2 linked regions of the Homo sapiens genome follow. The protein of the gene in region 1 purifies or fractionates together with the protein of each later gene. This does not show direct contact. Each region holds a gene or a part of one and is shown on either strand. Other genes may lie near its edges.

What was found.
Region 2: the proteins of GALK2 (region 1) and PLS1 purify together in Homo sapiens (affinity purification with mass spectrometry; 2 studies listed by BioGRID and IntAct, with this or other methods). This does not show direct contact.

The regions. Positions count from the first base shown.
Region 1 is NC_000015.10:49,278,114-49,281,965, reverse strand, and holds part of GALK2 (N-acetylgalactosamine kinase), read right to left. Parts: intron 1-3,852. UniProt on the Homo sapiens protein: Acts on GalNAc. Also acts as a galactokinase when galactose is present at high concentrations. May be involved in a salvage pathway for the reutilization of free GalNAc derived from the degradation of complex carbohydrates.
Region 2 is NC_000003.12:142,672,893-142,676,392, reverse strand, and holds part of PLS1 (plastin-1), read right to left. Parts: intron 237-3,500; coding exon 104-236; intron 1-103. UniProt on the Homo sapiens protein: Actin-bundling protein. In the inner ear, it is required for stereocilia formation. Mediates liquid packing of actin filaments that is necessary for stereocilia to grow to their proper dimensions.

The sequences.
Region 1 (3,852 bases):
TGTACTGTGAGTAGTCATAACCCATTTCTCATTCATTTCTTACTACAGGCATGACAAACAGGTTTGAATTCCAGCACCAACTCTGATCAACTAATAGTAGCCTGCCTGGAGCACTGCATTAAAAAGGGCTCCAGACTATAGGAAAATATACCAAAATCAATTAACAATGTCTGCTATGGGTATGGAATAAGATATTGACCGTGCACACTATGTTTTCGCCATCCCTAATAGTCTCCACAGAGCAAGCAGTTTCTACCATCTTTCTATTTACTCTATCCTTCCCTAGACTGGTATCACTGAAAATCTCATATGGGCAATCATTCATTTTTGCCTCAGCTTCCTTTGTCTCCCAACAGTGAACTACTATTCCACAGTCTACCCATAACCAAAGTGGGGTCATTAAACTTTATTTTCCTGTCCAAAAGTAATGAAGTCTCTCTGGCATTTCCATTAAATGTAAGAATCAGAACTGGTGTCATCTCATCAGGCTCATCTTCCTCCAACCAAGATGTTCTAACCCAAACTGAAAATCTTGAAATATCTGTTTAAGAATCTTTAATGGCTTCCTATTGATTAAGAAATAAATCTAAACGCCTCAACCAGGCATTTCGAAGGCTTCCAAAATCTGGGACCATTATGCATACGAAATTGTATCATTTACCATTCTTATCCAGTTAGATTTGTCTCTTTGACCACTTCACACATGTTTATGCAACTTGGTATTACTTCCTGTCTTCTGTCCTGTATAAATTGTACTTTTGTCCAATATCCAGTTTATTGGCTAGCTACTATAGATAAATCCCTGGGCTGACCACTCAAATCTTTCTTCATGGCCCAGCACTGTGGCTTACGCCTGTAATCCCAGCACTTTGGGAGGCCGAGGTGGGCGGATCACGAGGTCAAGAGATCAAGACCATCCTGGCCAACATGGCGAAACCCCATCTCTACTAAAAATACAAAAATTAGCTGGGCATTGTGGTGCATGCCCGTAGTCACAGCTACTCAGGAGGCTGAGGCAGGAGAGTCTCTTGAACCTGGGCAGCGGAGGTTGCAGTGAGCCGAGGTTGCACCACTGCACTCCAGCCTGGTGACAGAGTAAGACCCCTTCTCAAAAAAAAATAAAAAAATAAAAAATCTTTCTTCATCATGGAGTCTTCTTCGAATATTATTCCCATCATGGTGTCCCCTTTTTCTAAACTCCTAAAACATTTAAGTTAGTATCGTCTAATACTCACACTACTATTCATTCATTCATCTATTCAGTTTAATTTATTGTAAGACTTTATTCGGGCCCTTATTTCTGTTTTACTATATGATGTTTCTAGAATAATTATTCTGAAAAACTGATATAATCATCTCTTGCCTGCTTGGTTGCCAACACCTTAATGCTCATACTCTACAGCATGGTACACAAGGTCTTTAATGACTTAACCCTAGTGCACTTCTCCAGCCTGCTCTCCCACCACTCCTCCTGTAAATCCTAAGCTCCAGCCATGAGGGATACTAAACAAATGCTGTTCTTTACTACCGCAGGCTCTTTCACATCTCATTGTCTTTACAAATATGATTTTCCATTCTCTTCACTCAATACTCCCCACCGCATTCCCAACTAGTCAACAATTCAAGCAGCACCTTGCCGTGGAACCTGCACCACCACCCATATGCATACATACCACATAACTCCTCCTCAGCACTCCCTGTTAATAACTCTATTATCATGTATTGAATATGCTTTAAGTGTGGCTCTACTTGTCTTTTTATCTACATGTCTGTGAATCACAGTGTTATTATTGCTCCTTAATTGTTAATTGTTTCATGTTTCTATCACATCTGTTTCTTGTGAGAGATGAATAAAGTATGGTGTTTCTTTTGTGTCCCCTACTTCACATAATGCCGAACACATAGTAAATATTAATAAACACCTGCTGCTTTCAATTTCTGAGAATAGCTGCCCAAACACCATCTGACAGATTCTGCAAGTGTCATATTCCTTGTTGGTCATGTGGATTCACTAACATTAACTTTTGTCTTGTGACATGAGGTAAACTTAGGATTTTGATGCAATAGGCATTGTTCATAGTCTGCTGACACACAGAGCCAGTGTCCATAATATGTACATTAAAAATAAATTAGTAACCAAAAGATCAAAACACTTGGATTTAAAATGTAGAGAAACAACATACCCAGATGAAGCAGTACATTCATCATTATGTAAGAGATGATGGAACCTGGGTGCCCAACTAACTGTGACCCTGGGCCAGTGTAAAAAGTCCCCTCCCCTCAACAGCAATAACAGCCACATTTACTGAGTCACAGTATGTGGTAAGTATACTAAGTACCTTGCATTATTTCTTTTGTAAGCATTATCTCCTTCAAACCTCCAAACAAAGTTCTGCTTATCCCCATTATAGACATGAGAAAAATGAGGTTTAGAGATATATAACCAGAAGTGGAAGTGCCAGGATTTGAACCTCACCTGACTCCAAAGCCTGTATTCTTTTCTCACTGGACTTCAACCAGTCCCTGCAAAATGGAGATGATGTAATCTATTTTTCACTACCTCAAAGGGATATGAAAAGACAAATGAGATTCACCAAAATTTAAGTATCCTCCCTCTTAAGAGGAAAAAACCAGAACATTGAGAAGTTTGAGAAATTTATGCTTATTAATTATTTTTTCCATGTATTCATATTCTATTAACAATGCTAATAGTTTTAGTAGTTAAGGTTTATTGAGCACTTATTATGTGCTAGGTAGTGTTCTAATTGCTTTGCCTGAATTATTTATTTCTCACACAACCCTACTGATATGGTTTGGCTGTGTCCCCACCCAAAAGCTCATCTTGAATTGTAATCCCCATAATCCCTACGTGTCAAGGGCAGGACCAGGTGGAGGTAATTGGATCACAGGGTTGGTTTCCCTCATGCTGTTCTCATGATAGTGAGTGAGTCTCGGGAGATCTGATGATTTTATAAGTGTCTGGCATTTCCCCTGCCTGCACTCACTCCGCCCTGCCGCCCTGTGAAGAAAGTACCTGCTTCTCCTTTGCCTTCTGCCATGATTGTAAGTTTCCTGAGGCTGCCCCAGCAATGTGGAACTGTGAGTCAATTACATCTCTTTCCTTTAAAAATTACCCAGTATCAAGTATTTCTTCACAGCAGTGTGATAACGGACTAATACACCTATAAAATAGGTCTCTGTGGCTTACAGATTAGGAAACTGAGTGGGTTTATTAGCTGAGACTAGGCTAGTAATTATTAAAGATATAATCCAAACTCAAATGATCTGACTCCAGCACCCATAATCTTAACCACCACCATATATTACCTCCTATCCATAATAAGGAGAAAAATACCCACCTCCCTAGCCACAGGATTATTGTAATGATCCAAGAAACTAAAGTTTAAAACTTCAAATAAAAGCACCTTATAGTGCTCTAAAGTACTACACAGTTGGTGTTATCTTTACATGATGAATAAGGAATCATCTGATTTACATAAAAAAGCAGCCAAGTCCCAAGCCAAATGTAAAGACAAGTTATAATTACTATAGAATACAAGACCATTTTTTAAGTGTTCAGGGAAAGAGAATTTAAAGAATCTGGATTCCTCTAAAACAGCCAATTCAACATTAAGGAGTAATGAAGCCTGAGGCAAACAGGAAAATATATGTCCAATTGTGTTTTATTTTTGTTTTTGTTTTTTTGAGTCAGTGTCTAGCTCTGTCGCCCGGGCTGGAGTACAGTGGTGCGATCTCGGCTCACTGCAAGCTCCGCCTCCCGGGTTCACGCCATTCTCCTGCCTCAGCCTCCCCAGTAGCTGGGACTACAGGCGCCCGCCACCACGCCAGGCT
Region 2 (3,500 bases), on another chromosome or scaffold:
ACTGACTCCAAAAGACAATGGACAGCTGAATTGGAGTTTTCATGGAATGCTCATCAATGTAATCAGCAAGAACGCAGCTTCCTTAACCAGAAGTTCAACTCACCAAAGAAGGATGCCATCTGCAAGTGACTTGAAAAGACTATCATCATTGGGATTCATGGGTATAAGATGCTTACAGTCAGGGTCATTCTCCAGGGCTTTGTTTATCCAGTTAACAAAAGCCACTTTTTCTTCCTCTGAAAGGAGAAAACCTTGGTAGGCAAATCTCATTTCACAAACTTTATTGCACTATAAAAACATACATAGCTATTGCACTACAAAAACATACTTGTTAATTTCTGCTCAAAGATAATAATTGACCATTATTACAAATCTACTAAAACACAAAAGGGTTCAAGAAAAGAAGAAAGGTGGCTGGGTGTGGTGGCTCACGCCTGTAATCCCAGCACTTCCCAAAGCACTTCCAAGGCGGGCTGATCACTTGAGGTCAGGAGTTCAAGACCAGCCTGAGCAACATGGAGAAACCCCCGTCTCTATTGAAAATACAAAAATTAGCCAGGCATAATGGCACATGCCCATAGTCCCAGCTACTCGAGAGGCTGAGGCTTCAGGATTGCTTGAACCGGGGGGTGGAGGTTGCAGTGAGTGGAGATCCTGCCACTGCACTTTAGCCTAAGCCACAAAGAGAGACCCTTTCAAAAAAAAAAACGGGGAGCACGGTGGCTCACGCCTGTAATCCCAGCACTTTGGGAGGCTGAGACGGGCAGATCACGAGGTCAAGAGAGCAAGACCATCCTGGCCAACATGTTAAAACCTCATCTCTACTAAATAAACAAAAATAAATTAGCTGGGCATGGTGGCGTGGGCCTGTAATCCCAGCTACTTGGGAGGCTGAGGCAGGAGAATGACATGAACCCAGGAGGCAGAGCTTGCAGTGAACCGAGATCGCGCCACTGCACTCCAGCCTGGTGACAGAGCAAGGCTCTGTCTCAAAAACAAAAACAAAAAACAAACAAAAAAACAAACAAAAAACTGATCTATTAGGAGAGATGAAGGTATATATCTTAAATGAGCACAATATATATTTGGTTTGATTCAAAAATATTTCCAAATATGTATTGCTTCTGAAAGCTAATGAGTCAGAAGCAGACCATCGGAGGTCAAATATGTATATGTTAATTAAATAAGGAAAAAAATACAAGAAACAAATACCATGGCAATAAATCCCATCCTCCCCAAAAGGTTTAGAGAGCTGTGATTTTTAGCTTACAACAGAAATACTGAATTCAGTCAAGAGTTATTCAAATGAATAAAACAGCTCAATTTCAATGGAATTTAACTATTAAAAAATTGACACAAATTGGCTGGGTGCGGTGGCTCATGCCTGTAATCCCTGCACTTTGGGAGGCTGAGGTGGGCAGATCACCTGAGGTCAGGAGTTTGAGACCAGCCTGGCCAACATGGCAAAACCCCATCTCTACTAAAAAATACAAAAATTAGCCAGGTGTGGTGGCAGGCACCTGTAATCCCAGCTACTCTGGAGGCTGAGGCAGGGAGAATTGCTTGAATCTGGGAGACGGAGGTTGCAGTGAGCCGAGATCACGCCACTGCACTCCAGCCTGGGCAACAGAGCAAGACTCTTGTCTCAAAAAAACAAAAAACGAAGAAAAAATTGACACAAATCTAGATACCAGCACTATCTTTGGCCATCTTCATCCAACAACTTCTCAACACATGGCTTCTAGTATGGGTACATTGATCTTAAGTAGAAAATTTTGTTGGGTTATGCAGTGGGGAAAATAGGAAGGAACTTAAAGTAAAAACATTGTACAACTTTATTATTATTCTGTAGATATAAAAACCATTTAAGATTATAAATCCTTAAAGTAAATAATCCCCATTTCCATCAGAGGGTAGCACATAATGATTTGGCCTTCTCCATTGTTGCCCCAGTTCCTAGAATTAAGTAATTTTCCCAAGGGAATATTTTGCAGGTACCCCCAAAATTTAATCCACCACACATACATACACACACAAGTCAACAAAAACACAAATATGTACTAATATTTCCTCTTTGTACATATCATAATCTGCCTTATCTTCTCGCCTCCTCATACACACCTCCTTAGAAGGATTTGGAGTCTAGGAATTCAGAGATCACTAAAATACTGTATCTGCCATTGAGGAATTTTTTAGTGTAATTGTAAAACAAATATACAAAGAAATGTGATATAAGGGAAATACACACACCACCAGAAATATATATGCAATGTTTGCAGAATTTAAAAAAAGAAGCAATCACTTTTAGTTAGGGTGATCAAGAAAAGGCTTCATAGAGGAGGTACTATTTGAAATATAGTTTTTCAATAGGTGAATATAGGCAAGGAAAGAAAGGATGTTTCAGGTATAGGAACCAGGAATGAGATACCACATCACAACCACTAGGATGGCTGTAATTTTTTAAATGGACAAAAACAAGTGTTGGTGAGAATTGAAGAAACTGGAGCCCTCATACATTGCTGGTGGGAATGTAAGATGGTGCAGCCACTTTGGACCTTGAGAGCTTGTTTGGAAGTTCTAGCAGGGGAGTGCAGCTACTCGTATACCCTTGACCAAAGACCAGTCCTCTTCTATTGGGATGGTTGTCCTCTTCAACCGAGCACGCAGCTTCGGGAAGGACTCACATGGAGCACTGAGGGAGGAAGGGGACACCTGCCTAGCCAGCCAGATCAGCCAAATCAACCCTGGCAATCAATGGGGTGACAGATGTCGCAGCCAGATCGCCCTCACAAGTGCAGCCACTTTGGAAAACAATTTGGCAGTTCTTTAAAAATGATAAACATAGAGTTAACAAAAATTCAAGCAATTCTACTCCTAAGTATATGCCTACGAGAATTCAAAGTATATGTCCACACACAAATGCATTCATGAGTGTTCATATAGCATTATTTATAATAGCCAAACACTAGAAACAACCCAAATGTCCATCACCTGATGAAAGGATAAACAAAATGTGGTATTGCCCATAGAATGGAATATTCAGCAATAAAAAGGAATGAAGGGGCCAGGTACCATGGCTCACACCTGTAATCCCAAGGCAGGCAGATCGCTCGAACCCAGGAGTTCAAGATCAACCTGGGTGACATAGCAAAACCCCATCTCTACAAAAGATAGAAAAATTAGCTGGGCATGGTGGTACACATTTGGGAGGCATGGTTATGCACTTGGGAGGCTGAGGTGGGAGGATCCCTTGAACTCTGGAGGTCGAGGCTGCAGTCAGAAAAAAAGGAATGAAGTATGATATATGTGACAACATGGATAAGCCTTGAAAATATTACACCAGTGAAGAAGCCTGTCAAATGAAAGGCCACTACAGTATGATACCATTTATATGAAACTTCCAGAATAGGCAAATTTGTAGAAATAGAAAGCAGTTTAATGGTTGCAGAGCCTTCGGGAAGAGGGAAATGGGGAGTGACTGATAATGAATATAGTGTTCT